Linked DNA regions of Homo sapiens: all the other regions are linked to region 1. Evidence: fine-mapped expression QTL. A gene starts in region 1. Each other region holds a variant in brackets. All regions are shown on one strand. Distances are from middle to middle. Region 1 holds the start of LINC02693 (long intergenic non-protein coding RNA 2693). Region 2 overlaps LOC105371589 (a long non-coding RNA gene). Region 3 overlaps LINC02693 (long intergenic non-protein coding RNA 2693). Region 4 has its middle 48 kb from the start of LINC02693. Region 5 overlaps LINC02693 (long intergenic non-protein coding RNA 2693).

What was found. PIP is the estimated chance that this variant, and not a neighbour inherited with it, causes the effect.
Region 2: its variant is the best candidate, but not a certain one, in a credible set for the expression of LINC02693 in whole blood (TOPMed, PIP 0.71).
Region 3: its variant is the best candidate, but not a certain one, in a credible set for the expression of LINC02693 in whole blood (TOPMed, PIP 0.58).
Region 4: its variant is the best candidate, but not a certain one, in a credible set for the expression of LINC02693 in tibial nerve (GTEx, PIP 0.56).
Region 5: its variant is the best candidate, but not a certain one, in a credible set for the expression of LINC02693 in skeletal muscle (GTEx, PIP 0.79).

What each region holds. Positions count from the first base shown.
Region 1 is chr17:21,548,984-21,555,299 of GRCh38, forward strand. LINC02693 (long intergenic non-protein coding RNA 2693) reads right to left here and starts at 2,695. Exons shown (of 2, transcript NR_160801.1): 1 at 2,013-2,695. RefSeq lists a silencer at 2,589-2,758.
Region 2 is chr17:21,513,698-21,520,013 of GRCh38, forward strand. It overlaps LOC105371589 (a long non-coding RNA gene), which reads left to right. Exons shown (of 4, transcript XR_934332.3): 1 at 1-3,715; 2 at 4,705-4,762; 3 at 5,788-6,007. Among named protein-coding and RNA genes, the nearest start is that of LINC02693, 35 kb to the right of the region's middle. The variant G/T (reference allele first, on the strand shown) is at 3,170.
Region 3 is chr17:21,537,757-21,544,072 of GRCh38, forward strand. All of the region lies in intron 1 of LINC02693 (long intergenic non-protein coding RNA 2693), which reads right to left. Among named protein-coding and RNA genes, the nearest start is that of LINC02693, 11 kb to the right of the region's middle. The variant T/C (reference allele first, on the strand shown) is at 2,656.
Region 4 is chr17:21,596,214-21,602,529 of GRCh38, forward strand. No RefSeq gene overlaps it. Among named protein-coding and RNA genes, the nearest start is that of LINC02693, 48 kb to the left of the region's middle. The variant G/A (reference allele first, on the strand shown) is at 3,776.
Region 5 is chr17:21,522,243-21,528,558 of GRCh38, forward strand. LINC02693 (long intergenic non-protein coding RNA 2693) reads right to left here. Exons shown (of 2, transcript NR_160801.1): 2 at 6,068-6,316. Among named protein-coding and RNA genes, the nearest start is that of LINC02693, 26 kb to the right of the region's middle. RefSeq lists an enhancer at 36-536. The variant C/T (reference allele first, on the strand shown) is at 3,249.

The sequences.
Region 1 (6,316 bases):
CATGTTCTTTTAAGTATATACATACAGGTTAGTTACGTTTCCAGTTTCCTGTGCTTTTTATTTTTTTTTTAAACAAGCTTTTCTGGCCCTTCATTCTCTCAGACTTTTCCTTCCATGCCTTATGCTGTAGATAAAGTCTATGATCTAACGTCTGTCAGTTAAGATTGTTTTCAGCTCTGGAGACCAGAAAATCTGACCCACATAGCAAGAACAAGCAAGGGCAGGAGATGAGGCTGAAGAGGCAGGCACCAGGTTGTCTGAGCTTTTATTCTACTGCAATGAGTAGATAGTGGCAGGGTTTACACAGGGGTGGGGGTATGCCTATATCATGTTTTAACATTTTCAAGAGATCACTCTGGATGCTTGAGTGGAGGCTGGACTGTAGCAGGGCAAGACAAGATGCAGGGAGGTTGGAGGATTCTTGGCAGTAGCCCAGTAGGAGAGGAAGGTGACTGAAACTGGTTGTGGAAATGGAGATGGTGAATCAGGATGCTGGTTGCACTCAAGAGCCACAGGACTTGCTGTGTGGTTGCATGGGGGTTGGGGGAGAAGGGAAAAGAGTCAGGGATGACTCTTGGTGCTCCCCTCAGGGAAGAGGCCCCAAGCCTAGTGGTTATCAACAGATGGATGGTATTTAAAGCTATGAGACTGTGTGGGATCATTCTGAGAGGATCACTAGAGATCTGGTGGAGGAGGAGCAGGAGGATGAGGATAAAGGTGAGAGGGAATCCAGGAGGGAAGGTCCCTAAAATCCAGAAGAAAGGGTGGAACTCCTCAATTGTATCGTCTGTGTCAAATGCAGCTAAATGACTGAGATAAAAGTCGTTTCAGCAAAGTACCTTGGAGGAAAGCTGGAAAGGAGTGGGTGCAAGAGAGGACATGAGGTGAGGAAGTTGCATGGAGCAGAGAAACAGAATGGTAAATGGAGAGAAACCTGGGGTTAAAAAAGGTCTATTTGTTTAATGCACAGCATTAAGGAATGCTTGTGTGTGGACACTAGCAAAAAATCAGTACAGAGAACCCCAGAATTCTGGGGTCATAGCCCGAAAGGACTCCTCAGCTCCAAATTTACTTGAAGTTACAGCTTCCATCTTTAAATTAAATGGGATTTTTTTTTTTTTTGCCATCTATTTCATCATACAGGATGTGACACAGAATATATCTGAAAGTATAACTTTCCTGGAAGAACACATCTTAGTTTTTAATATCTAAACTGTATAGCAGCTATTTATCTCACAAAACATTTTTCAGGCTGAGTGCGGTTGGTGACTCACGCCTGTGATTCCAGCACTTTGGGAGGCCAAGGCAGGAAAATTGCTTGAGTCTAGAAGTTCGAGGCCAGCCTGGGCAATGTGGGGAGATGTAGTTTCTACAAAAAATTTAGAAATTAACAGGCATGGTGGCACAAACCTGTGGTCTCAGCTACTGGGGAGGCTGAAGCAGGTGGATCGCTGGAACCCCTTTCGTGGTGCAGTTTGGGCAAAAGAGCAAGAACCTGTCTCAAATTTTTTGGCTGATGGTTGTAGACATAATGTTTGAGCTTTCAAAAATTACAACATTTTAAACTAAATAGTTTGCTGGAAAAAACCACATGTTCCTTCCAGAAACAACTGGTAGACCATCAGGATCATGACAGTCACTTCAAAAAGCTTTGGTGTGTTGACAAAGGGGAGGTTCACGTGTGATGTTGCTGGTCGCACAGCTACTGCATCCAAGGCAAATGCATGTTAACAACCATATCAAATGTGGGTGACCAAGTGGCAACATTTAAGCATTTTACATCCTAACTTATGTGCAACTTAAACCTACTGCCACACTGTGAGTTAGGAAATTGGTAGGTTTTTTTCTATTGACTTGTTGTGCCCTATAATTTTTCCTATTTAAAATAATGGGAAACAAGTTTTCAGTTTTTTTCTCAGAAAAAGTCTGACATTTCAGGCACAGATATGTCTGACAGTTATTACCAGCAGAAGAGTTTCTAGCCTTTTCATCGTAAAATTTTAATTACTTACCTTGGAAATTACTTAACTTCGTTCCTTCCAAATCTGGTAGTAAAATGGGTGCTCCAGAAAGCTGTGGCACGGATATTCTGCTGCTTTGCTCGTCTCTGCACAGACCTGGGGCTTGAGGAGCCTGCAGCCACGAAGTACAGGACGTCATCAGAATGGAAAAGCGATCCAGATGGTCCCGCAGGCGCAGTGCTGGGGCGTAAAGTGCAGCCTGTGCACGGCGGGTGGGAGGCGCGCGGGCTCGCCGGGGCTCGGGACTGTGTTCTTGCAGCCGAGAGGCCCACACAGGACAAGGAGGCCTGACCCAGGCTGTTGGAGCCCGCGAAGAGGGGGTGAAACTCCAAGGGGCGTAAGGGTGATCACACGTGCGGCCAAGCTTCCCGTCTGCATGGCGAGGGGCTGGGCCTTTCCGTCGTGATTTTTCTCCCATTATGCCGGGCGCGTAGCGGGCCCTGGGGCGGCGGGACCGGTGCGGGCGTTCAGTCAGCCCGGGGTCCTGGAGGCCGGCGGGGGGATTCGCAGCAGCCCGAGGGACGGATGGATGGCAGAAAGGAGTCTCTACTTCCAGGTTCCCAGTGATCGCTATGTTCCTTACAAGCAGTAAACTCACGACTTCAGACACCCGCCACGGAGCTCCGCGCGCAGTCCTCAAACAGCCAGCCACGCCGGCCGGGCGCACAGCGCATGCCCCGGGGTCGGGGCGGGGCGGAGGAGACGGGGCGGGGCGGAGGGGACGGGGCGGGGCGGAGGGGACGAGGCGGAGCCGGGCGGGGTTGAGGGGACGGGGCGGGGCTTGGCGGGGGCGGAGCCGCCCAGCGCTGAATCCAAATCGTATCTAAGCTATTTTCTAGCTCTGACATCGTATACATCACTGCATACGTGAATAGCATGCCAAATACTGTATAAACCAATACTGGTTTTTTTCTTCTCGGGAGGTACTATATAAATAAAGCACGTACACGGTATCTAATATCAGAACATTCAAATCCCATATTGAAAAGATTATAAATTGACCATAATCCTATAATTCTGTTTAGCAACAGTGCGTTCCTTCTCAGTCTTCACTTTTAAAATATCTAAGAGGCTCGATGTCTTGAGGCTTTTTCTTTTTAAACCCAACATCCTTTTTCACATTTATTAGTTTAGTACTTTGGTTTTACTCAATAAAAAGGTGGGGTTAAAAAAATCTGAATTATTCTGCAATGTTTCAGGCAACAGAGGCTGAAAACAACACTGTTAAGGCGGGGGGACAATTCTTATACTCTGTGAGTCTTCTTGTTTAATTTTCATTAAATTTCCAGAATAATAAGCGTAGGATAGCTAACGTTTGTCTTTGCGTCGTAGATTAGTTAACCTTTACTGAATTCACAATATGGCATCAGAGATTTAATCTGCATTTCCTAATTCTTATAAATTAAAGCTGAAGTTTAAGCTTCATTCGCACGTCACAAATACCACTTGCCCTGAATAAATAATGTTTTTAGAAGTGAGCATTCCTGATCTCCCTGTTTGTTAAGAATTGTCTTCTTTTTTCAGCTGCTACTCTGCTAAGACAAGAGTTAGCCCCTGAGCTATGTTATCAGTTCAAGGCTTTGCAGATAGCGCTGTATCGTGGGGGAAAAATGAACATGGTTTTCAAAAAGGAGGAGAACATTTCTATAACGTTGAGACTTTTAGTAATCAGGGCTATTGATGTCAGATGGCTGTTGGGACAAATGACATCATAAAAAATACAAAATTTAAAATTATGTTTGTTTATGTTTGTTTGTTTTCAGATTTCTTAGTAGTAAAGGGGCTGTGTTTTCACTCAGGCTTATATGATGATGACATTTCTCAGACCAGCAGCTATCTGCTAGCATTCTGTCCTGGACTTGGGGTGCACCTGTGACAGTAGCTGGGCTTGTCATCCAGTGAATAGCTCATAGTTGACTCCTCTCCATCAGTATAAGCATGGGTGTGGGTGACTGCATGGTAGAGGGGGCCGGGGTAGCCAGGGACCAGAGGTTAGTGAACCATTGGGTAAGATGTATAACTGTTACTCAGGCTCATAATTTTTCAACTTTTTCAGATAGTAATAACAAGAAAGTCCATCCTTACCAGTGTCAGTCTCTGTTTTAAGTGTTGTTCATATATTACCTCATTTAATTATCACACCAACCCTATGAGACTCAGAATGTAAATAGGCTACTGAGGTCACATTGCTGGTGGATCTTAATCTCAGGCCAGCTTGGCTCCTAAGTGTGTGTTCTCACTCTATTGCCTCTAGAACAGGAAGGAATATATGGATACTGTAAATTGTTAAAGAACAAGTTGAAAGAATTTTATTTCCGGCAACATGGGCTGACAAGAACCAGAAAACAACAAAAACTTCTGGAATACATATCAAGAACCATTTTAAAAAATGTATCAATGAGCTGCAAAATAATTAAGAGTTCGCAAAGGCAAAAAAATTAAAATTAAAAAGTGAAAGTAGAAACCCAAAGAAGTAATTAGATGCCATTTTTCACCCTTAAGATAGTTGCCAAGTGTCATACTGAAACTCTCTTTTCATAGTCTGGGAAGAGGATGGGGCAGCAGAATAGCAGACAAAGTTTAGATCCTGTCCAAGGTAGGACGGTTAGCAGAAGACATCAAAAGTAGGACACCAGCCGGGCGCGGTGGCTCAAGCCTGTAATCGCAGCACTTTGGGAGGCTGAGGCGGGCGGATCACGAATTCAGGAGATCGAGACTACCCTGGCTAACACGGTGAAACCCCATCTCTACTAAAAATACAACAATTAGCCGGGCGTAGTGGCGGGCGCCTGTAGTCCCAGCTACTCGGGAGGCTGAGGCAGGAGAATGGCGTGAACCCGGGAGGTGGAGGTTGCAGTGAGCCGAGATTGCGCCACTGCACTCCAGCCTGGGCGACAGAGCCAGACTCTGTCTCAAAAAAAAAAAAAAAAAAAAAAAAAAAAAAAGTAGGACACCAAAAAGATAGGTTTAGTGTAGGAGGGAACTATGAATCAACCTGTCTGCCTCCCCTGTCTCCTGCCCCCTCAATCCCTGCAGCCCCTGGAGCAGCAGACAAGATTATCCATCCTGAGGGAAAACATCCCTCCTGAGAGTGAGGATACATTAATATATAACCATGGGCAGCCCTTCCACTGGTGGCTTCACACACAAACTGTATAATCTAAAAAGTCTCAAGCTGCAAATTTAAAGTGACATCAGGTTTTTAATGCCTTCCAGGTGCCTGGCAAAAGCAAAATGGAAGACAGCTTCATGGAATGTAAGTTTTTAATCAAAAATCACAAACATTTATAATGGGCAAGAGCCAGCAGAAACAATGTACAGAGGAGAAAACCTACAGAGACTTAAGATATTAGAGTCACCAAACATCACATAAAGTGTGTCTTACATGTAAAGAAACAAGGGGATTAAAGAGCATGAGTATGAAAATAACCAAGTAGATTGGGAAAAATTACCAAATAGAAATCTAGATTTGAAAAATACCATAATTGAAATGGAAAGTTTAATGGATTAGTGTCACAGCCAACTAGATACTACCAAAAAGAGAATAATGGATATGAAGAAATAAAGACATTTTTAGACTTGTAAAGACTTAAGACTTTCTTACCTGGAGACCTGCACCACAAGAAAAATTAAAGGATGTCTTTTAGGCCTTAAGAAGGATACCATATTGAAATCTAGATCTGCACAAAGGAATGAAGAACACTGGAAATAGTAACAACATGGACAAATATATGATTTGTTATTATTACTTAAGCCTCTTTAAAATATAATTGTTTAAACAAAAATAATAAAGTACTATGGAATTTACAACATGTAAAATAAAATGGATGACAGTCATAGCTTAAAGACTAGGAGGGAAGAAGTATACTGATGTAAGTTTCTTATACTAAAATGATATATTATCACTTGAAGGTAGACTGTGATCAGTTGAAGACATGCACTATAAACACTAAAGCAACCACTAAAATAACAAGCCAAAGAATTGTAGCTGTTCAGGATAACACAAACAATCTCATCAAAAAGTGGACTAAGGACATGAATAGACAATTCTCAAAAGAAGATATACTAATGGCCAACAAACATATGAAAAAAATGCTCAACTTCACTAATTATCAGAGAAATGCAAATCAAAACCACAACACGATACCACCTTAATCCTGCAAGAATGACCATAATAAAAGAATCAAAAAATTAAAATAGATGTTGGTGTGGATGTGGTGAGAAGGGAACACTTTTACACTGTTGGTGGGAATGTAAACTAATACAACCACTATGGAAAACAGTGTGGCGATTCC
Region 2 (6,316 bases), 35 kb before region 1:
CCACAGTCTGTGAAGCAGCCAGCTGGAAACTGCATACAGCAACCCTAATGGTCAGGACTGCACTGACGGCTTCCCTCCTTTTTGCCCTTGCTTCCAACTTAGGACCAACAGGGAGAACCAAATAGGCACCCTCTTACCAGTCAGGTAGGATCCCCTGACTGGATACAGGAGATGGAAATAAATTGTTTAGGCAGATAGGGCAAAAGAGTCCTTGGCAGAACTCTAACAAAAAACATCCCAAGAAATCATTTCTTTCTAACAAAGAGCAGCCTGAAAGATGGAGCTGCAAACATAGATGAGGAAGCTGGAAGCTTGCAGGGGGGTGGGGGAGGCCTGCAGCTGCACTGATAAAAGGGACTACCTGGCGCCAGGCATGTCCACCATGGGGGGTTCACCTTCCCTAATTATTTTTTGTTGTTGTTAACACATGCACAGTAAGAAAGAAATAAGCAACATGGAGTAGCTACCCACGTGCGTAATAAAAGATTGGTGTGGGGGCGTCCAGAGATTCGTGCCCTATGCAGATGGCACACCTGGTCCTGTTTTTTCGCACCCGATGTAGATCAGACACTGCTCCCCACTAGCTCATCTATAAAAATCTTTGCATTCCACTGTGCATCAGCGACCTATTTTTCCGGGACCCCTCTCTGTAGCAGAGAGCTATTCTCTTTCTTTCACGTATTAAATTTCCACTCTTAACCTCACCCTTTGTGTGTCCTCGCCCTTGATCTCTGTGGCTGTGAGACAATGAACCTTGGGTGTCACCCCAGACAATGAGGCCACTTCACTAGCAGCCGCCTCTGGTGGCTGGCAACCCCATCAGGACTCCTCTTCCCCTTTTCCACCGCAGATTTCCCATTCCTCTCCCTGCCTTTGAGTCTCTGCCAAACATTATTGAGCTGCATGAAAGAACCTTAAATGCATATTACTAACTGAAAGAAACTGATCTGAAAAGGCTGCATACTGTAAGATTCCAACTCTGTCACATTCTGGAAAAGGCACAACCATGGAGACAGTAAGAAGAGCAGTGGTTGGCAGGGGTTGGGGGAGAGAGGGATGAACAGGCAGAGCACAGGGGATTTGCCGGACTGTGAAACTACTCTGTATGATATGACAGTGGTGGATATGGCATTAGACATCTGTTCAAACCCACAGAATGTACTGAGGACTAAACTGACATTTTTTCTCTCTTGCCCAAATTCCTATCTAAGGGGCCTGGGGAGTCATACCCTAGAAACTGACATCTCAACAGATGGGCTTTATTTAACCCTATATATAACACAGCTTTCTTTCCCACCTGACTCTCGTATAACATCATATGACAGATAAAGAAGGAAATAAAAATATTTTACCCCAAAATAGGATTTTTTTTGTGTATTTTGAAATGGCCCTGCAAAGCTGTCTCTTGTGGGGAAAATTTGCATCCGTAAAGAATCTCTATTACCATAACTAGCTCTTTTCCCTTCCAGGCCCTCCCAATCCTCTAGAGATTAGCTGAAAGTCTAGCACCTTTTAAAAGTCTGAATAGGAAATATTGGCCATCTATTGTCTCTAAGGGCGACCTCCATGAGACTTCATCTACATGGTAAGAACCTTGGTCTCCACAACCCCTTATCTTGACCCAGATACTCCTTTGTATTGATTGCAGGTTTTTAGATAATAACTGTTTCAATGAATTGCCAATCAGAAAATCTTTGAATCCACCTATGACCTGGAAGCCTTCCTCCCACCGACCCCCTTCGAGCTGTCCCACCTTTCTGGACTGAAGCAATGTACATCTCACATGTACTGATTAATGACTCATGTCTCCTTAAAGCGTATAAAACCAAACTGTAAAACAACTGCTTTGGGCACATGTTCTCAGGGCCTCTTGAGACTGACTGTACCTTGGGTCACTCACATTTGGCTCAGAATAAATCTCTTCAAATATTTTACAGAGTTTGGCTCTTTTCACTGACAATACAACACCAAGAGTGACCCTAATGTGAACCACAGACTTTGGGTGATAATGATGTGTTGGTGTGGGTTTAGCAGTAGTAACAAATGCGCCCTGCTGATGTGGGACATGGACAGTAGGGCAGGCTGTGCATGTGTGTGTGTGTATGTGTGTGTGTGTGTGTGCGCACGTGAGCACATGCGGGCCGGTGAGGGGTGTATATGAGAGCTCTCTGCACGCTCAGCTCAATTTTGCTGTGTAAGTATAGAAAAAATCTTTCCTCCACCCATCTAAGGTTTATTGCCTTGGCCCCACAAATTTAGACCAATGAAAGCCAGGTTAACAAGAGAAAACAACGCATTTATTAATTCATGCATCGCAAATACACATGGGAGAGCTCAGTGATAAGTAATAACTCAAAAAGGTGGTTAGAACTTGGGCTTATTAGCATCTTAATGAGAGAGCAATGTATTTGTAGAGAAGTGGAAAGACAAAGGAAGGGGACCTTGAGCTTCTTTGGATAACAAGTTGTGGGAAGGTAGATCTATGGGGGAAGCTGACAGATAAGGTTGATTTGGTGTGCTTGTGATGTTGATTTTTCTGGTGCTACCTCTGGGCTGGTAAGAGCCATCCTGCCCTTCTGGTAGATGGGGACAGGGCAGAGAGTTTGTCCTGTGTCTACTTGGTCTCAGTTGTCTTCAGCTCAAAATAATCTTTGTATCAGAGTGGCATATTTTGGGATGGCATACTCTAAGCCCCTTCAGCTGTGAATTCAAAACAACTCTAAAAAGTCAATTAAAAATTGTATTCCTATAACATGGCCCTTGCTGGTGGGGCTCAGGACACACCACCCCAAAATATGACAGTACAAAACCAGATATGTGAACACAAAATATACTTCTTAGGCAAATTTTGATCTTGTTATTCTAAGAAATTGCAGACACAGGAGTAGCTCTGAAAAACTGCCCTTTTGTAAAAGAAATTTATAACTATAAAAGAAATCTACATTAGTGAAGTATCTGTATCAGGAAGAGGGCTGGTTCCAGACAACTTCTATCACCCCAGAGACTTTTCTCTGCAGAACAAGACACCTTTTATTCACCAGACATTGCCTCCCCTCACCCTCCCAGAACTTGTGCCCATCCTCAGCAAGCCCCAAGCCCCTGTTCCTTTCTGTAACTCAGGACACTATCTAAGCTTCATTCATCTGGCCCTTCTCCTAGTCTATAGTTT[G/T]GGGGACTCCTGTGCATATAGATGTAATTAAAGTGGTGTTTCTCCTATTAGCTTTTCTTATGTCAATTTAATTCCTAGCCCAGCCAAAGAACCTAGAAGGGGAAGGGGAAGGGGAAGCCATTTTTCCCTCCACGACCTGCTTTTCAAGATCCCAGTTTGTTGGAACCACTTCAGAGTTAACCCTCTGTAAATACTTGTCAGTCCTCATCTTTTCAGTGTTTTCACCTGACATTCACTCTTTATTGCACTCTTACGTCTCCCAACAGGTTGCTCAAGAAACTCTCCCTTGCTGTGGACACTGCTGACTTCTGTAAAATACATTTACAGGAGGCCATTAGTTTGGACTGAGCTTCTGCACTAGGCCCAACAGACTGAGACGGAGCATGGACCCCTATTAGAGGCCTGCTGGGCCTCCTCCAGCATGGAAACAAAGGAAAATCTTGATTTCCTTCAAGGGAAATTCCAGGTACCTAGCTGGCCTTGAGAAGTAAATGAGCCACCTGATAAGCAAGAAGGGAATAATAGCTTCAAGTAACAGGCACTCAAGTAAGTCAGAGCCACAAGGTGTTTGGTCCCCTATTGAAACTAAAGATTACATCTTAGCATATGTCCATGAATGGTTTTTCAGAAACCCGGACCCACGTCAGATGGAAAATACTGACCATCATCACAGAGACCTCAGATGTCGGGGAGCTGAGGGCTGCACTCTGACGGCTGCTCTTTGTTGTAAATTTCTTTCTCAGGGGCCTGGAGAGAGTCATGCCCACAGGCCAGACCTTAACATTCCTTTCTGCTGACCCCAAGTTTTCGACAAAGCCTGGCTTCCTTAACCAATTGCAATCAAAGAATCCTGAAGCCGCCTATGACCTGTAAGCCCCTTGCTTCAAGAGCTTCCGCCTTTTTGGGCCAAACCAATGTATACCCTCTGCATTGATTTATGGTTTCCCTGTAACTTCTGCTTTCCTGAATTGTTCCCCTGCCTTTAAAATCCCTTGCTTGTAAGCCATCCAGGAGGTTGGGTCTGAAGTGTAAGCTGCCCCATTCTCCTTGCTTGGTGTCCTGCAAGTTAACACCCTCCTTTCTCCTGCTGCAAACCTCCGTGTGGGTGTTTGGTTTTACCACACGGGGCAAGCAGACCCAGGTTCAGTTCAGTAACAAGACCGGACTGGAATGGAGTTCCTTGCGCTAAAGTTCCACTTTTCCAAACCAAAACTAAGTTGTTTATCTGACCTTCTGAGAAGTCAGGACACAGAGAGATAAAAGGCAAATCTCCAACAGGCCAGGTTTAGCCAGAGTGATAAGCAGTCCTTCCCCTCTGCTTTAATGTTTACAAGGAAAGTAACTTTGCAACCAATCTATGCTTTGTTCTTTGCTTCCACTTCAGCCTTTTCTATCCATAAAGCCCATCTCCCCCACTCTGCTTGGAGGAACGCTCAGTCTGTTTTATGGAATGAAGTGTTGCCTGATTCTAGAATAGCAAATAAAGCCAATTAGGATCTTTAAACTAAATCTGTTGTACTTTTGTCTTTTGACAGTTCCATGATGGAAAATCTAATGGCCACTTTCCATTACCACATCCCAGGAGCAGTCCAGGTAAGTGGCTCCTTTTGTTTCTGGGGTCCATCTCGCTCCTGGCTCTTGACGCCGATGCTTCTCCTTCTCCTCCTGCATTTCTTGTGCTCCTCCCCAAGGTTTGCCAGCGCGCTCACAACCCTTGCTTGGGATTTAAAATCTGAAGTGCGTCATAACTCACCCCTGGACTCTGTTATTCTTTTATTGGTATGCCAGAAAAAAAGAACCCCAAGCTCTCTGGGTGACCAAATTGATATTTAAAGCATTAATTATTAACTCTATTCTTACAACCTCCAGATTTTATCTCCACTCAGAATTATATGTACAGCTGCCTAGCTGATTTCCAGACTGAAATGCCTCTTTGACATTACAGATTAAAACTGATCCCACTCTATTGTCCAGGTCATCTTCCTTGACTTGGCTGTGACCCAGACTTACTGTCTAAATAAATGGTGTGACGGCTCACCTAGGGACCCCAATCCAGACTCTAGGAGAGTTTCTTCAGCCTGTATCCCCCCATGTCATGAATAATCCATTACCGAGTCCTGTTCGTTCTTCCTATACATCTCTCCAAAGGCTTCCCTCCATTTCCACAATGACCCCAACTGTTTCACCACTCGCTCCTCAAAGAACCTCTGGATTTGTTTCTAGCTTTTGGCTATGAGGAATAAGCCTGCTGAGAACATTCAGCTCCAGGATTTTGTGTGAATGTAAGTGCTTTAGTGGTGGGGCGGGACCCTGCAGGCCATCCCTGGGTTGGATGATTCTCTAGAGGGACCCAGAGAACTCCACCAAGCTGACCTAAGGCCCTGAAAGTCAAACAGATACCGCATGGCCCAATGCCTGCACCATAGCTCACTTGTTGGAATAAACTGCCTAAGAAAAATGGGGGTACGTGGTTACATTATCAGAGGCATCCCAGGTGGATCCTGGAGACATGGACAGTACCCGTAGTCACGAAGCTGACAGCTGGAAGAAGCCCATCTGGTTCAACCCCTGTCTGGCATATTCCTTCCTTCTCCATCCTCACTTTCTACCCCTCACAGGGACAGAGAATTTACAGCTTACCGAGCCAGGCCATTGCACTTTTGGACAACTCTACTAAATGGATTTTCCTCATGCCATTGCATAACTGCTACCTGCCACCAGAGCCTCAGAAATACATGGTTTTCCATCAAGCACTCATGGAACATGTAACTGTGGGCGCTTCTAGGGCGGTTCATGATGGATCCTCCAAGATCAACTAAATATAAAACAAGCTCCCAGGTAACAGAACCATTTCAGCTGTTAAATAAAATCATCTGTATTAACCTAGTTTAATTATGAGGGACATCTCTCCCAACATAATATATATATATATAATAAATATATACATATATAATATATAATAAATAAATATATATAATAAATATATTATATATATATATATATATATTTTTTTTTTTTGAGACAGGGTCTCACTCTGTCACCCAGGCTGGAGTGCAGTGGTGCCATCACAGCTCACTGCAGCCTCAACCTCCTGGGCTCAAGCAATCCTCCCACCTCAGCTTCCTGAGTAGCTGGGACTATAGATGA
Region 3 (6,316 bases), 11 kb before region 1:
TGCTTTCACCACTTCTATTCAAAATGGCTTAGAAGTTCTGGCCAGAACAATTAGGCAAGAAGAATAAACAAATGGCATCCAAACTGAAAAGAAAGAGGTAAAATTATATTTGTTTGCAGATGATATGATCTTAGATGTAGAAAACCCTAAAGATTACACACACACACACACACACACACACACACCTGTTAGAATAAACAAATTCAGCTGAATGGTAGGATACAAAATCAGTGCACAAAAATCAGCTGTGTTTCTAAATACTAATAATGAATAATCTGAAAAGGAAATTAAGAAAATTCTATTTACAATAGCATCAAAAAGAATAAAATACTTAGGAATTAACTAAACCAAGAATGTAAAAATCCCAATGATGTGCTGGGCAAAACAGAAAAATTCATCCTAAAATTCACATAAAATTTCAGGATCCAGAATAGCCCAAACAATCCTGAAAAAGAACAATGTTGGAGGACGCATACTTCCTGATTTCAAAACTTAGTACAAAGCTACAGAAATCAAAACAATGTGGTGCTGGCATAAAGACAGACATATAGATGAACAGAATAGACTAGAGAGCCCCAAAATAAACTCTCACATATATTGCCAAGTGATTCTTGACAACTCAACAACAACAAACAACCCAATTGATTCATCTGTGTTGTATATGTTCTATAATCCTATTTATATGATATTTTAGAAAAGGCAGTATTATAGGGATAGAAAATGATTAGTGGTTGCCAAAGAATGCGGTTGGGGAAGCGGTTGACTACAAAGAGGCGTCAACAATAGAGAATTTTAGAGATGATGAGACAGTTGTGTTACTGTGAACGTGAATGTATAACTCTATACAGTTGTCAAAACTCATGAAACTGTATGTTACAAAGAATGAATTTTATTCTATGTAAATTTAAAAATCAACAAAGATGGTGGGCGGGTCAGATGGAATGCAGTTGGTGACAAATGAATCTTACTGAGTTAAAAATTATGACTAACCCATATTGAAGAGTGTGGGGGAAAAAAGTCTTCACCTAAGTAACCTTTGAAAATACTGTTTTGACTGCATACTGTAAGACTCAAGAACTGCACACAAACATACTGTATTCTGGTTGGCAAATTTGTTTCAGGGTATGGGTGAGCAATTCTGAAATGATTTTCCATGTTAGCAAATATATTTTAGAGAATTAGAGCCCAGTTTCTCTCTGTAGGTGAAAGAGTTATAAATAAACAAAGGGAGAATGCTAGAATAAACCCTAAGGTGCTGGACTGGAGTTAGGAATGTCAGTATGAACCCATGTCTATTTTAATGTATCTGTTTAGATGGACAGATGTAGATAGGTAGATGCTGAGTTTGTATTCATGCATACATGTTTGGAAACATTCACATTTTTCCAAACTATGCTGAGAGGGCCTCGAAGCAGTGATATCCCAGTATTAATGAGCACACCCAGTACCCAGATCCTGGTTTCTAAATACCATTCTCCTATAAAAGAAACCAAGGCTTCTTGGAGAAATGACTAATTCTAGGCCTGCCACGAAAAACACAAGATGAGACTAGAGCAACTTGCAGTGCCAGAAAATAAGAAAGTGCTTTTAAAAAACATAAAAGGGTGGGGACATGTCAAAAGAAGCCAACCTGGAAGAGCTCTCTATGACTCAAGGTGGAACAATGTGAGTGGCAAACAGTTATGACAGCACTAAATTGTAACCAAGAACATAAAATAAATATCCACAAGTCCATACTGATATAGAAAAGATTACATAAATCAGGAAGGAAAGACAAATCTTCCTTGCAGAAGAATTCCAAGTAATAAATGTTGAAGGAGCACAAATAGAAAACTACCACTAGAACACCACAGTAATCATTACTGCAGGAAAGAGTCATCAACGAATGCAAAAATTGTGGATGAAGAAACAGTATGTTTCTGTGGCCTCAAAACATCTCCCTCCAAATATTTATTATATATTTTTCTTTTTTTTCCTCTTAATTTCACCTAAAGATCTATGACTAAAGCAAATATAACACTGTGTTGTGGGGTTTATGACATGTGCAGATGTAAAATTTATGGCAACGACAGCACAAAGGATAGGAGATAAATGGTGCTATTCTGTAGCAAGTTTTTCTATTTTACACTCACTGTAACAGTACAATATTAACTCTAAACTGTGAGAATGTTAATGATGCACACTGTAATCCTTGGAGGAACTGCTAAAAAATGAAAAAATGTGTCACTTCAATGCTAATAAAGGAATACAACAATACAAAAAAGTACTTGTATAAGAATGTTCATAGATCTTTACTATTATGATAGCCCAAAACAGGAAATAACCCAAATATTCATCAACAGAGAAATGTATGAACAAACCATGGTGCATTCATACAACAGAATACTATTCAGCAATACAAAGGGACAAACTACTAAAACACACACTATGGAGGTGTTTCACAAATATTATGCTGAGACTGCTGGACATAAAAATGTATATTTTATGATTTCAAGCAAAATGAACTTACAGTTAAAAAACCCCCACAACAGTACTTTCCTCTGGGGGAGTTAAAAATTGCCTAGGAATGAGCATGAGGGTGTTTTCTGGGGATGATGGAAATATTCCATTCTGAAAAGAGGTGAAGGTTATATGGGTGTATTTATTTTTCAAAGC[T/C]GTACAATTAAGATTTGTGCCTTTCAATGCATGTGTATCTTACCTCACCAAAAAAGAACTAAAAAAAAAAATAAAGTGAGGGGTAGTAGGGAAAGGGCTGAGGTACAGAAGAAACAAAAATGGCACATGATTATTAGCTGTTGAAGCTGGGTCACGGCTCTATTATACAATTTTGTTCATTTTTTATATATTTAAATTTTTCTGTAACGAAAAGACTTGCACAGAAAGACAAAACTGATCTGTAATGTCAGCTGTTAAGACACTGGTACATTTGAAGAGGAGGGAGGCAGAAAGCGCTTGTGGGCCACATGAGTGAGGCTGCTTCTATTTCTTGGTTACCCACGTGTATCAATTTTGTCATAATATATATTGAGCTTAAGTAAATGCTTTATGCACGTATTTCTATATGCATGTTATATATCAACAAAATAGTTAAATACCACATATTTGCACACATAACTTAGTATCTCAGAGTAACAGCAGTGTTTTTTGTTTCAAAGTGGGACACTTCCACTCACAGCATCATCAGATGAACTGTAATATTCTGATGTATCTATTAGTGTCCTAACCCTTGGGTGAGACCCCCTAGGTCTTCCCATTTCTGCCTCAATTTGGTAAGTAGTAAGACTCTTATTTCTGACGATGTGATTTTATTTCCCAGCAAAGTCCTCCCCAAACCAAGGCCACAATAACTAGCACGGTGCTCTGCACATCATATGCACTCAGCACTTGTGAAATTGAGTTGAATCAGAAACAAAACGAGGAGCAGAGGTCAAGTCCTGCAAAAGATAGTAAGTAAGTAAGTAATGTAAATAACGCAATTAAGACTGAAAGGCTACAGCTCGGCAGCAAAGACTTCACATTCGTTTAAGAAACCATTTGCTACTAGTTCATCAAAAGACGTTGGTTTCATGCTGTGGTTCTCAATTCTGGCCACACATTGTAACCAGTTGGAGAGCTTTAAACAGCAAGGATGTCTGGATCCTACCCCAGGGATTCTGATTTCACTGGTCTGTTGCAACTTGGGTTTTGGGAATTTTAAAAGCCCCCTGCCACCCAGGTGATTGTAAGGTGCATCAGGGGTGAGAACCTTAGCTGTGCCTGATTTCCTTGTGTGCTGCGGGGATTTGCCTCATCGCAGCATCTCAGCTTTGCGGGGAGGGGTGGTGGGCAGTCTTAGAAAACAGCTCTGCCCTGTTAAAATCAAAGGACGGCTCAAGACGTGCTCAGCTGCTTGACTAAATTGCAGCAGGAGGAAATGTCTTTTCAGCAGATCTATCTTTACATCACTTGCTTTCAGAGTAAGAGGTTGTTTTGGGCACAGCATTTTGATTTAGTCTGTGTTGAAGACCAGTAATAGCCTACAAATACCAAAATGGGATGAAAAGAATTTCCAAACATGTGAAGTGCTTTATACGTGTTTCTTCATCCTTCCCTGTGTCTACACCCTTTGCAATGCGCTTTTACAGCTGCTCCCATCCAGAGTTAGAATCTGTTTCCCAAGACTTGGATCCAGCTGGCAGTTTTGGGCCCAGTCTCAAAAGGTCTTGAATGCTTCTTCCTTTTCTTTCAGAACCGTGCTATCTCCGTGACAACAAGCCCAAGTTAGCCTGCTAGAGGATGAAACACTTTGCGGAAGAGAACCAAAGTTGCCCAGTCCACAAGCCAACTCACTCTCAACAGCAGAGCTGTCTGGTCACCAGCAGCTGACCCCCTTCTCCCATACACACACATGAAGATTGCTATACCTTATAAAGGTACGGCAGGTTTTATAGGTATAGCAATTAATTTATGGCAGGAGCCTGCCATAAATTGCTGACTTGCTCAATCATGAGCTAAATAAGTTTTGGGATGGCTCATTACACAGTAACAGCTAACTAACACACCCAGAGCTGACAGGATGCCAGGATTAACAACATGCTGACTACAAGTTAGCTGGCACACTATAGGGACCGTCTAGGTACTGAATTCCTTTTCCCCTTATTAGAAGTTGGGTCCCTTGAATTATAAAGAAATGCATGTAGACATGTATGTGCTTAAAACTCACACAGTATCACACAACACAGGAGGAAATAGATGACAGCCTGACCACTAGGGCAAAGGCCAAATAGCAAGGTAAGGCATTTGTCTGGAATCTATTCCCTCCAAATCTAAACTCTGGAGGTCAAGGCTGTGGACAGGACCCACCTCCTGGGACCCCGCTGTCCTCTGATCTCTGGAGGGGAGAATGGCCCCACCAAGCAGCAGATGGGCAGCAGTGGCCTACCTGTGGCCACCTCCTGCTGGCAGCCCCTGCTCTCTCAGGGCACTCTCTCTTCCTTTGGGACTGAGAAGAGATGTGGGTAGGGAGGGGGAGCTCCCTCCCTCCTGGCAGAGAAGTGGGGTTCAGGCCCTTCACCTTCCTGAGTTCAGGGAGTCAGAGCCCTCAGAACATCTGGAATCTGGCTGCTTTGAACTGAGATATGCTAGAAGTGTAAAATATGGAGTGAGTTTTAAAGATTTAGGACAAAGAAATGTAAAACGTTTCATTAGTATTTTTATACTGATCACACATTAAAATGATATTTTGGATACATCGGGTCAAATAAATTATATTATTACAAATCAATTCCATCTGTTTCTCTTTAGTTTCCTTAACCTGGCTAGTAGAAAATTTAAAACTACAGGCAGGCATAGCTCATATTCTGTTTATATTGGACACGGCTGTCTTAAAGGACTGCCTCCTTTCCGAAGCTCAGGCTGCCTCCAGTCATGGTGGAAGGGGAAGTGGAGCAAAGAAGAAAGGAGGTGGGGTGCCACGCGCTTTCACAACAACCAGCTCTCATGTTCCATAGAGCAAGAACTCACTCACTACCACCAGGACAGCACCAAGCCATTCCTGAAGGATCTGTCCCCAAGACCCAAACACCTCTCACTAGGCCCCCCTTTCAACATTGGGAATCAAATTTCTTTCTTTCTTTCTTTTTTTTTTTTGCTAGAGGACAGGAAGGTTATAAAATCTGAAAATTTTAAATAATTTGTCATTTTGTTGTTTCCATTTGTGAACAAAGGACTTAATAAAAAATTTAAGATTTAACATTAAAATAAAATACATTCATTTCAATATCACGCTGGAATTCAACATTGTTTTGCACGGGGGCTGCAGAAACAATGTAGAGCTTCTTCCTCCTCCAGACCCTCACAGCTCAGCAAGCCTCTCAAGGGCTGGTTGCTGGCCACTGCGTTTCCAGTTTTTGTAGGTTCTCTTCCTCCCAGGTGATTAAGGAACAAGGCCAAAGGTGTTTGAAGCTTTCAGAAAACACAGGATTTTTCTTTCTGTGGCTCACCAGCATTTTCATTTCTATATCAGCAACACCATATGCAGGCCACAGCTGAGCCAAAACACATAATGAATTGAGTCTGAAATCAAATTGTACCTAATATTTACAGCCATGTGCATTACTAAAAAGGGGCATATCTTCCAACAATTCCAGTAAGTTCCCAAGACTTAGTTCACACTGGGTACTAGCCTGTGATGGTGCCCCTGTGCTTGTTACTGGGGGCAAAATGGGACAGTGTTTGCTGAGTTCATGGCTGAGGGGCTGCGGTGCGATGCAGAGAGCAAAACTTCCCACTGAATAACACTCCTATGTGAGAGCGGCATGGCGGCCAAGGTCAGCTG
Region 4 (6,316 bases), 47 kb after region 1:
GCTGAGAAAAAAAATCCCCATGGAATCACATGCTAAAGAATATGTGTTTGATTAGGAACTCCAGAGAAGGGGTAGATGCCAATAATGAAATGGAAAGAGTAACAAGGTTAGAAAAAGGAAATTAATAACTAGAGTGATCAATAACCAGAGGAAAAAACCCACAAGGTAAACCAATAAATGTAAAATAAGCCAGAAGAAATAAAATCAACTACAGTAGATCAATTGTATAATGAAATGTAAACAGATGAATTCCCATTAAAAGACAAAGGTCAGCTTGGGTTTAAAAATACAGTGATAACTGGGCAATATGGTGAGATCCCCGTCTCTCCAAAAGAAAAAAAAATACAAAAAATTAGCTGGGTGTAATGGTGCATGCCTGTAGTCCCAGCTACTGTAGAGGCTGAGGTGGGGGGATCACCTCAAACTAGAAGGTCAATGCTGAAGCAAGCTGTGATGTTGCCACTGCACTCCAGCCAGGGCAACAGAACAAGACCCTGTCTCAATCAACACCACCACCAACAAAAAAACCCAGTGATGTATATATACAAGAAAAACACTTAAACAATGATAATGGTGGAAAATAAAAGAATGCCAAGAGATACCAGGAAAGTGCAAAAGCTAAAGTAAAATAAAGAGTGGCCATAATAATAATAGAAGGGTGAAATTTAAGGTTAAGCACTGAAATGGGATAAAGAGGGACACCATGTAATGATAGGCACAATTCGTAATGAGAGAACACTCGAAATCTGCATGCTCCCAACAGCATCACAGTAAATACAAAAAGCAAAATCTAGTAAAAGATGAGATTTATAGAGAAAATTTATAGAGAAAATTATAGAGAACACTCAAAATCTGCATGCTCCCCACAGCATCATAGTAAATACAAAAAGCAAAAACTAGTAAAAGAAGAGATTTATAGACAAAATTTGAGTGGAAGGCTAAATCTCTGTTAGAACTACAGTAAAAGCCTCCTCCCCCAAAGGATACAAAAGAAGTGACAGTTTGAATAACCAAAAACTTGATTTGGTATATATGGGACCTTATATCCCTTAAATAGAAAATATATATTTTTTCTATGTCTATGAAAATCTTAGAAAAATCATTTGGCCACAAAGAAATTCATAATAAATTTTAAAAGTGGAGAGTTTACAAATTTGGAGAAAATGAATGCTTTCCTAGTAAAATATAAAGTGCCCCTAATGAACTAGATAATGAGTAGAAACTTAATTACCACTGACGAGAAAAAAATCTGCCACTGAAAAAAGCACCAGGTCCAGACGGTTTCATGAGAAGGAACTGTAGAATCCTTTAGAATTCACCTCCGTCAACACCTTCCTCCTCTGGGAAGCACTCCTGGATTTCCCTCTTGCTGACAAGATCCTGGGAGAGTGGCTTCTCCATCATGTCCCTGACACAGCTTCTTGAAGATGTACCATATCATATCATAACCATATGATATCATATCTGCATACCACATCCTAACTGGATTTGATGGCCAATATGTCCTGGAAAATAAGCTACCTGAGTGTAGGAATCACACTTTTTTATTGGTTTCTAGTGCCTGGTACAGTACAGCAGCTGACACTGGCTGACTAGGTGAATACGGTAAGTGAAAAAGCAGAATGCACAATCATCAGTACTCTGCGATGCCCTTATGGGAAATCCCCAAGACACACACATAGGAAGGAGAATAAATGAAAAGAAACCAAAATGCTAACAGTAATCAGATTGAGATTTCCCCCATTATCCAAATATTTATGATGTAGTTAAACAATTTTTATAGGGTGAATAGTAATTTATACAACCACCTGGGCCAAGGAGTAGAAGAGGAGGAGGAAGGCTCAGAGGATCTTCAGGCAGGCCCTTCTGCTACCTCGGCTTCCTTTCTCCGGCCAGGTGGTCCAGCCGCCAGGCAGACATGAAGGCCCTGACAGGGGCCTCTGCCCCACCACCTTCATGCCTCATAGGGGACCTCTAGCTAGGAGGAAGGTGATGAGACAGGGTAGGCACCCACCAGGAGCCTAAGCTGGACAGAAGGGTCCCGTGGGTCTTACCTGGCCCAGGCAGCAGCTCTGGAAATTCTATCAACACTAGATTCCTCCAAACAGAGCCTCCTAAATTTTAGCAAGAGCTCCTATGCCCTTCAGCCCCAGGGCCTTAGTCCTGTCAGCCCCATTTCCCCCTCAATATAAACCAACAGCCACTGTCCCCTCACTCTGTGGCCCAGATCCAGCTCTGAGTCTCCCTAGCTTTCGGGCATGGAGCCCCAACTGCATTCCTGGTGATCAGCTACTCCTGGTCATGACCATGGACTTTCCTATGTCCCGGAGCCTGGCACTGACCATCCATCTAGGCTGGCATTCCATACTAATGCCCACCCCTCCCTCTACTGGACACAGTCAGCTCTAGGAAGGGGAGAGAAAATCCATCTAGAATGAGGGCAACTGCTGTGGCTGGGGAAAGATGCGACAGGGCAGATGAGCTTGTCCTGGTGCCCATCTCAGGCCCCTGCAGGCTGCAGGGAGCCAGGGACTAAGAGGTGAATAACAGGTGCAGCCTTCAGGGAGATCCCCAGAGGACCATGGGGGCTGAAGGGAAGGGAGGGGTGGATGGAGAGAGCTCTTGGTGGACAGGAATGTGAAGTGAAGATGGAGGGAGACCCAAGAACCTGCTCTCTCAGAGGTCAGACACTAGACAGGCAGCAGGGCTTCTGGGTCAGCCTGGGTCTGCAGGTGAGTCAGGGGAGGGAAAGGTTGGGCCAGGCGTAATCCAGCTGAACCACCCAGGGTGGCTTCTCCAGCTTGGGGGTGGGGGAGTTGTTGTAGGAGGGAGCACAGGCAAGGGGACTCACTGGAGTCCCCTCAACTTGGCTTCAGCTTCCTGCTGATACCAGCTTCCCTTTCCAAAGGCCCCCAGCTGGCCCCGGAGTAGAACAGATGGGTCTGTCCTGAAGTCAGTTTCTTTCTCTCAATCACAGTGACTTTGGGCTGCCCTTGGAGTTTGACCTAGGAAGTGGGTGCAGGGCCTGGATCCAGAGAGGAAGGGTCACTGGATGGATTATAGGATGGGGGAAGGGGAGGACCAGGTGGAAGTTCAGGAGGGAGGGGAGAGAGTGAGGAAACTGCTGTGGCCCTCTCCTGGTCCTTCATGGGTGAGGGCTCACTCACAGTTCCCAGAAGAGGAGGAGGAACAAGGGGTCCCAGCTCCTTCCAGTCCAGGCTGCCAGCTCAGATGTGGGGCCTCCAGAGCTGTTCGTATAAGAAGTTGCAGCAGCCAGGCTCCACTGGCCTGGGCTTTCTCCTTTTGAGGCGGGATTGATGACTGCACCCTGAAATCCCCGAGTCAGGACTGCAGCAGTGGAGAGGAGGCTCAGAGGCCCCTTTATTCTCCGGGCTTTTGCCTGGCTTCCCTGGGATTCCTGAGTGGCCTCCTTTGAGGGAGGGGAAGAGTTGTCCCTGCTTACCTTCCCCTTGCCACCCTCTCTCTCCTTCAAGAGGGCTTGCTTTCTGCCCTCTCCTAGGGAGCCAGGAAACAGGAGACATCCCTCTCCTGGGACATCAAATTCTCCAACTACACCCTCAGCTGCAGATGGCAAGGTCACGATTTGGAATTCATGTCTCCTTCCCTGCTGCCCATGCCCACAACAGGGCTGGGCACACAGAGGATGATCAGAAGAATGAGCATGTGCTTGCCTTTGGCTTGTATTCTTCTTGCCGAGTCTAACAGGGTGGTCAACCCTGATGGCCACCTGGCTGAAACTGAACGTGGTGGCCTG[G/A]GTGGGTTTTATGGGCAGGAGACCTGGAACTGTCCTAGACACAGCCATTTCCTGGCAGCATGACCTTCGGCCAGTCACTAAACCTCTCTGAACATCTGTTTGTACTCAAGGCAAATGGAGGTGTCTATGTCTGCCTTCCAACTTGTTAGAAGCTTAACCCTGGGTGCAAGCCTTTGAGTAAGAGGCCACAGTACTGTTAGCCCCTTTGGGAATGTGTCTTACCATATTTTATGTCCCCTGTGTCCAACACAGTGACCAGTACATACCAAGTACTCAATATGTGAAATTAGAGTGCATGGTGAATGACAAGACTGCGCCATACATGGCAGGAGCTCCTCTCTTCTAGGGGTCTGTGGGCTTGCCCAGTAACCTGCCCTAAGCCATGAGCCGATGCCCAACAGACAGGTGTCCCCACTCTCCAATGACCCTGTGTCACTGCCACCCTCACATCGTTGCCCCCTCTGTTCTGCTCCACCTCTCCTTTCTTAAGAGATCCCTTCTCAGCAATGATCTCCTGCCCATCCACCTAAATTTGGGGATATTTCCATCTATGACCCTACACCCCCTCTATCCACACCATCTCTCTCCCCTTCTGCCTGTTGTCTACACTCTCGATCTGCATCCTCACCTTCACTCCTGACCCACTGTCCTCTGCCTTCAGCAACACCCTTGACCAGCTGGCCTTCTGGTGGCCACATTGGATAAGTGTACTATGGCCTTTATCTAACTTGACCTTTCTGTAGCCCCCTTCTTCTGGACACTTCTTGCCCTTTGGGCCAGCACTCTTGTGCTTCTCTTCCTTGATCTGTGCCTGCTTCTTCCTCTCAGGCTTCTCTTTTCCTCCCTTTGTCTGGCATCTACCTTCAGGCAGGCCCGGTGTTTCCTCCATCCTACTCTTCCTCAATTCATCTCCCCTCAGTAAATAGCACCACTGTCTGCCCATGAGTGCAAACTGGGAAGCTAGAACTCGGTCTGATTTCCCTTAGATGCCCCTCGACCACCAGACCCTGCCTACTCTACTTCTCAAACCTCCGGTCATTGCCACGTGCCCATGGTACCACCAAGGACCTTAGCCATTCTTGCAGCCCTGGCCATGGAGATTTTTTTTCTCAATCTCATTCCCTTCTCTGCTAAAAGCCTTACAATGGCCACAGGAAGGCATGCACATTCCTGGCAAGGGCCCATGAGACCATGCCCAGGTGGGCACTAGCTACTTGCAACTCCCTACTCCACTCTTGAACCCGACCCACATGTCCTCTCCTGCTGGCCTCTCATCTAAGAGGGTGAGACCCCCAGGACCATGGCTGTGTCTTAGTTCTCTCTAGATGCAAAAGCTTACCTGGGTCTTGGCAGGTGTTCAATTAGTTCATGCCTAATGATTGGGTGAACGGACCTGGAGGATCATAGTGGGGAAAGGGGATAGAGAGGGCTGGCTTTTCCTGAACCCTCTGAGGAGATAACAGGCAGGCTTACCTTTCAGGATATTCCTTCCCAAAATGCTGCTGGAAAATATAAGATCGGGGTGGAGGTCCAACTAACTCCCAACACTGGACCTTGTTGGGGATGGAGTGTCAGGGAGGCCCACAGCTGACTCCTGAATAAAACACAGTCACAGGGACTGTGGTATTATTGTACCCATCACTTAGTGGGGGGGAGGGGAAACAGGACCAGACATGCTGAATGACTTGTGGAGGTCACACAGTAAATTAGGGACACAATTGGGGTCAGGAAGCAGCCTCTTTGGCCAATGTCCTAGTTCCTTCCTGCAAAAGTCCCTGGCCCCATCACCTGCACCCCTCCCGCACAGGCCACTGCAACCATGAACCTGCTGGGAGCCAGAGGAGAGATGGGCAGAGGCACTATCCAACAGGGACCCTGGTACTGGGATGTCTTCTCAGAAGATGCTGGGACCTGGGATGTTGGCCCTTGGGCAGACCTGCAGAGCACTGGCTCATAGGTAAAGGGCTGCCACTCCTCCACCCTCCTCAACACACACTCTGTGCACTCTGTCTGAGCCAGACCCTGGGCCAGAAGTGAGGTTCAAAGGGCATGGCCATTTCCCAACCTCCAGGGGCACCTTTCAGAGGGGCAGACACTCCCACCATCACCAGGACAGAGAATGTGGAGAGGTCTGGAAGTTTGCCACCACGAGCCTGTGCACGAAACAGAGGGGTGCCAGGACAAGAGCACTGGCATCCAGCCACCCATCCCAGAGATGCTGCCTGGTCGACTGGCAGGGGCTCCAGACAGGGACCCTCCTAGTCCCCATGCCCTCCTGCCAGGTGCTGTTTTCCAGCCTGGTCACAAGGTGACGGGCTGCCTCTGCAGGAGCCTGAGGGAAGGTGGCACAGACCTGGAGGGAAGCAGACCGAGGCCTACCCAGACAGTCTGGGTGGACCATCTGCTGCTGCCAAGCACTTCCAAGCCTCTCCTTGCATAAGGCTCACAGCAACCCTAATTGTGTATTGTGCTTACACATAGGGACGTTGGGCCTAGAGGAATTAAGTGGCTGTCAGCAGCTGGCAGGTGACCCAGCGGAGT
Region 5 (6,316 bases), 27 kb before region 1:
TGGTGGGGGTCTCACCCGCTTGGGATGGCCTCAGCTCCCAGGCTGCAGCCACCACTGCCATTTCAAAGGTGAGAAGGAACTGTCTGTGTGGGCCTCTCATCCCGCAAAGTGAGGGAGGCGGGAGCTGGGTGGTGCAGGGAATTAGGAAAGGCAAACCTGGGACGTGCTGTGCCCTGCAGTGCAGTTTCCAGAGGGGAGCAGCCCGGGGTGGCAGACGTTTGCATTTGGATGTTAGAAATGCTCTTCCTGGCTGGGCATAGTGGCTCATGCCTGTAATCCCAGCACTTTGGGAGGCCAAGGCAGGCAGATCATGAGGTCAGGAGAGCGAGACAATCCTGGCTAACATGGTGAAACGCCATCTCTACTAAAAATAAAAAAAATTAGCCAGACGTGGTGGCGGGCACCTGTAGTCCCAGCTACTCGGGAGGCTGAGGCAGGAGAATGGCGTGAACCCAGGAGGTGGAGCTTGCAGTGAGCTGAGATCGCGCCACTGCACTCCAGCCTGGGTGACAGAGCGAGACTCCGTCTCAAAAAAAAAAAAAAGACAAATGCTCTTCCTGACTTTTCAGAGCTGACTGAAGCCCCCGTTTCTTGGCCTGTGTCTTTTCCTTGCCTTGGGGTCCACATTAACCAACTATATTCAATCAACAAGCTTAACACTGAGAATCAAGAGAAGCCCAGGATCTGGGGAGCCCGGGACCCCCTTCATCATCCACTGTGCTTGGGATGGGGCTCCTCTTGTTCTCCTGCCCCAAAGGAGCTGGCACACCAAGCGATGCTTCCAATTGTCCACTGCCTTTATGGGAAGGGACAGCGGTCTCTCCTTGGTGCCAGTGTTAGAAGGAAGAATTGATGCTCACTCGGTCCTGCTGTGTGTGGGAGTCTCCTCTGCACCCCACCCTATCTTGTCACTCGTCACCACTGGGTTGAGCAATACCAGACTTTGTTTCCAGGCTTTGTTTCCTGGCCCTTGACAATAAACAGAACAGTGTCCCTCAGCCTTTCACACCACATAGACCCCTCAGGATGAGGGGCTGCTCAAGCAGCTCCCACTGATGCTGGGCCTTGGGAAGAGGGGGCCAGTGGGGAGGGCCCTCCCCTGAGCTGAGAGGTCCCTTTATAAAGGCAAGTCCAAGCCCCAGAGATTTGGGGGTCAGCAGGGGAGAGAGCAGGGCTGAAGGCGTAGAGGGGGCACCCTGCACTTTATACCTGGGGCAATGCAACAACAAAGGTGCCAGGTATGTGGACACACACCTAGAGGAAGAGTGCTGTGCACCCTCAAAGCCTGGTCTGAGGATCAGCAAACCAGCCCCTCTGGGAAGGTTGTTGGAAAGGCCAACTCTCAAGCCCCTCCCCACCCCTGATGCACCAGAACCTTCAGTCTGACCTAGCCCTGGGTGACTCCCCTGCTCCCGAGGTCTGGGACGAGCTGCCTGCAGCACTGGCTCTCAATCTGCCTGATTGTCAGCACCATCTGGAGAGCCAGAGAAATTCTGAAAAGACAGATCTCTGGGCGCTTCCATCCCTGGGATTGTGACTCAGTAAGTAAGGGGTGAAGCACAATAATTCATATCTATGTTTTTAAAGCTCCTCCAGCATTCTGGATGCTTAGCCAGCCTGGGGACCCTCTCTCTGCTCTTCGGGTATCTTACAGGTAAGAAAGATGTCATTGTAAGCTTTTACCCTTGGAAACACATTCATTCCAAACATATCAAAAGAACTTATTAGGCCGTGTGTGGTGGCTTATGCCTGTAATCCCAGAGCTTTGGGAGGCCCAGGTGGGCGGATCGCTTGAGCCCAGGAATTTGAGAACAGCCTGGACCTCCTTGACTTCTGGGGAGTTTATGAGGGACCTGGACACTGTCAGAGTGGTTTTTTGTTTCCCTTTGTGTACAGTTTTGAGTTCATTGTTTATGTATTAGGGTTTGGAATAGGATCATATAAATATTTCAGGTCCTAAAATAGCTGTGACAGTGTCACTAATCTGCCCCTGAGCTGAACATCCACCCCTCCGCCGCCATTTAATCCTCCAGTCATGTGAGGGAGGATGGGAGTCTGTGTGAACGTCATTCTCACTCGCCTTCAAAGATCATATCTGCCTGTCTCATCTGTCAAGAACGTAGAGTTTGTTGTGATGGTGTATTCAAAATAGACGAAACGTGTGGTCATTGTACTTGGCAAACAGCTTTTCACGTCAGGATGTTTCTGCCCCCGGCTCAGGGCTGGTCCGACTGTGTGAAGAATGTGGCTCAGTGCAGGTGCCCAGTCTGCCACCCTCAGTCCCGCAGCTGCAGTGTTAGAATAACTGTGCTGTGGGCACCCAGCGTTGGTGACATGGGGAATGTGGAATAATGAATACTTAATTCACATGTGCTTATAGAAAAAACTTTATACAATAAAAATAACCAATTGTTATATTTACATCTTTTTCTGTCACTATATATAAAAGGAATCAAGAATTTTCATGCAGCTTCCGGGTATTCTTGAGACTGGTATATCATTTCTTTTTGAAAAGTGCATTATTGCATAACACCACCTAGATAAATATATTTTTATGTATTTATAAGTATATTTTAGCTCAAAAATATCAATAGTATACATAGCTTATAGCACAGTTTGGGAAATGCTGATGTATATGGTAATAATGCGTTGTTTGGGATGATTTAAAATTATATCAGGATATTAGGAGCCCAATATAGTGATCCAGATTGAGATCCTCTTGTCTAGTATTCTTTAAAATGGCAAAACATCAAATCTAGAAAATAGATAAGAAATGAATTTTAAGATAAAAGTACAACAGATTTTCTATTTTTACAAAAATCATTATTGATTTTCAAAAATATATTTTAGAATTCAAGCTGTTAATTTAAAAAGTGCTTATTTCATCATATAACGAACAAAACTGGATATAAGAAAAAACGCCTCGTCTTGCTGTCTCCAAATCTTGCAGCTTTTCAAAGTTTCAGAATTTTGTAAAATATTTTGAATAGCCCAGACTTTCTGAAAATCGGCGTAGCCTTTCAAAGTATTAGAATTGAGAAGCTTTTAAATGCCAATCTTATTTTATAAAGTGTTGACTTTTCACTGTAGACTAATAGCGAACAGTTTGTAAAGAAATGTAAATAAAAAATGTAAATAAATAAAATAGGCTTATTAGTTTTCAAAAAATTTATTTAAAAGGAAGGGGCAATGTTGATTGGAGTGAGGAAGTATTTGAAAATGTATTTTGTGAAAGAAATCAACGCACA[C/T]GCACACACACATGCCTCAAAAGCGAAACTCCAACAATGCAGCTGCTGTTCCTTTGCAGCAATATTTATCTCACCTTGAGTGAGTGAGGGCCATGCTGCTTGGAAGCGTAATAACTTAAACACCTTGCCTATGTCTAGGGATTAAAAACTAAGCTCTACTCAGCTCATGTAATGCCCCTGACCTCCACCAGAGAGAGATTCTTGGTTATTCCTTGTGGGCAAATATGTCCATGGATCAGTGGATCAGGGACTGTTGAATCAGATATGTCTCCCTCTCTACATGTCACGGTTTGTAGAGATCAAAAATTTCCCTGAAAACACCCAGGTTTATGAAGCCAGGTGATCAGCCAGTTCTGAGGCCTAACTAGGGAGGCCAGAATCCTGCTTGCAGGACAGGGCTGGGTTGGGGATGTCTGTGGTGATGTCATCTCCAGCTGTGAGCTCCAGGGCAATGCTGTCTGGGATGAAGGTCTGGGGCACCCTGAGCTCCTGGAGAAACGGGTGCAGTTAAGAGCTCTATGAAGATTGTATGTGGTGGCAACGCTGCTGGGATACCCCGTGGGTAGCCTAGAGAAGAAGTACTGTGTCCCATTGCAGGTGAAGGTGAATTAAGGCAGAGAGGCTATTGAAATAGGCACTGAACAGAACATGATAGCCGAATCTATAACAGCAAAATATTTACCAGTTGTTGATTGGATGGGGTCAGTAAGTTCCATAATACTGGGTGTTGGGTATGGGGTCTTAATGAAAGGATTACAATGTTAAGGTTGTAGTAATCCACTGTGAAGCACCATTTATTTTTTTCCAGGCTTAAGCACAGGCAAGACTGAGCTGTCAAATGGAGAAGCAGTAGAGAGAATCACCCTTTTATTAATTAGGTTTTATATATTAAGTTTTAAACTTGAAGGTCCTGTACATCTGAATTGTGTCTCTCCCAAAATTACATACTGAAGCCCTTACCCCAGTACCTCAGAATGTGCCTGAATTTACAGATACAGCCTTTAAAGGGAGTGGTTAAGTTAAAGTGAGACCATTAAGGTGGGCCCTAATCCAACATGACAGGTGTCGCTATAAAAGAAGAAATCTGGAGACATAAAGAGACCTCAGTGCTGGGTGTGCTCATAGGAAAGGTCATCCCAGGTCGGGAGAGAGGCCTCAGAGAAACCAAATACCCCGCACCTTGGTCTTGGAATTCCAGCCTCCAGAACAGTGAGAAAATAAATTTCTATTGTTAAAGTCACCCAGTGTCTGGTAGCCCTAGCAGACTAACACATCTTGCTATAACTTACGTAGAGTCATATTAACTATTTTAACTGGGGACCTGCAAGGTCCAATTTACCTCATAATTATAGCAATATTAACTATTTTTACTGGGGACCTCCAAGGTCCAAGCCAATTTGTAGGTGCCAAAGACTTAATTGAATCATACATATTACTCATTGTGTTAGAGCATGTTTTAGGGCAATGAGTATTATGCTTATGAGAAATTTAGGCAAAGCTACAGTTAAAATAAAGCATGGCTATTTTTCCTCTATAGTTATTTTGCCAGGATCACAGGCATTGCAGTGTTTAAATTTAGTGAGATTCCCAGGTATAACTGTAATTTGAGTCCCAGCATTGACTAAGTTCATGAAGCTTTGTCAATTGGTGCATTTGTTAATCTGGAGCCCATGCTGCACAGGCACAAAAGCCAATCACGGCCCCTTTTATCTCTTTGTTATATAAATCCTTATAGTAAATTTTGTGTTTCCAATTGGGTCAAGTTATGGACCTTTGTTTTATTACATATTTATGTTACTGGGAAGGGGCACTGTTCCAGACCCCAAGAGAGAATTCTTGGATCTCGTGCAAGAAAGAATTCGAGGCAAATCCATAAAGTGAAAGCAAGTTTATTAGAGAAAGTAAAGGAATAAAACAATGGCGACTCCAGTGGCCAAGCACGGTGGCTCATACCTGTAATCCCAGCACTTTGGGAGGCTGAGGAGGCAGGCGGATCACCTGAAGTTGGGAGTTTGAGACCAGCCTGATCAACATGGAGAAACCCCGTCTCTACCAAAAATATTAAAATTAGCTGGGTGTGGTGGCAGGCACCTGTATTCCCAGCTACTCAGGAGTCTGAGGCAGGAGAAGCACTTGAACCCAGGAGATGGAGGCTGCAGTGAGCTGAGATCGCACCATTGCACTCCAGCCTGGGCAACAAGAGTGAAACTCTGTCTCAATAATAATAATAACAATAATAATAAAAGAATGGCCACTCCATAGGCAGAGCAGTGGAATGGGGTGCTCAACTGCTTGTACTTATTGTTACTTTTTGCTTATATACCAAACAAGGGGTGTATTATCCATGAGTTTTCCAGGAAAGGTGTGGGCAATTCCTGGAATTGAGTGTTCCTCCCCCTTTTAGACGGTATAGGATAACTTCCTGACGTTGCCATGGCATTCATAAACTCTCATGGTGCTGGTGAGAGTGTCTTTTAGCATGCTAATGCATCATAATTAGCGTGTAATGAGCAATGAGGACAACCAGATGCCACTTTCATCACCATCTTGGTTGTGGCTGGCTTCTTTACCGCAACCTGTTTTATCAGCAAGGTCTTTGTGACCTGTATCTTGTGCTGACCTCCTATCTCATCCTGTGACTTAGAACGCCTACTTTCCTGGGAACGCAGCCCAGTAGGCCTCAGCCTTATTCAAGATTCTCCAGGCTTGAGGGTGGAGCCTTATTTACCCAGCCCCTATTCAAGATGGAGTTGCTCTGGTTCAAAAACCTCTGGCATTTATATTAAAATATGTAGAATATATGAAACATTACATGCAGGTAATTTTTAATATTCACTTTATTTTCATCCCTGGTGTCTAGGCCTGCCCTCTCCCCCATTTCTGGGCTTCTGGCTGCCCGAAGCCGAGGTTTTGAGTTACTGTCTCTGGCTGACAACTCAAAGTGTGGACCTTCTAGGGGCTTGTAGGAGGCAGGGTGTGGGGTGGGGATCACAGGCAGCCCAGCCTCTTTCCCAGGCTCTCCAATCCCCTCTAAGGGGGTGGGATTTGCCCTTGGAACCTAGACGCCC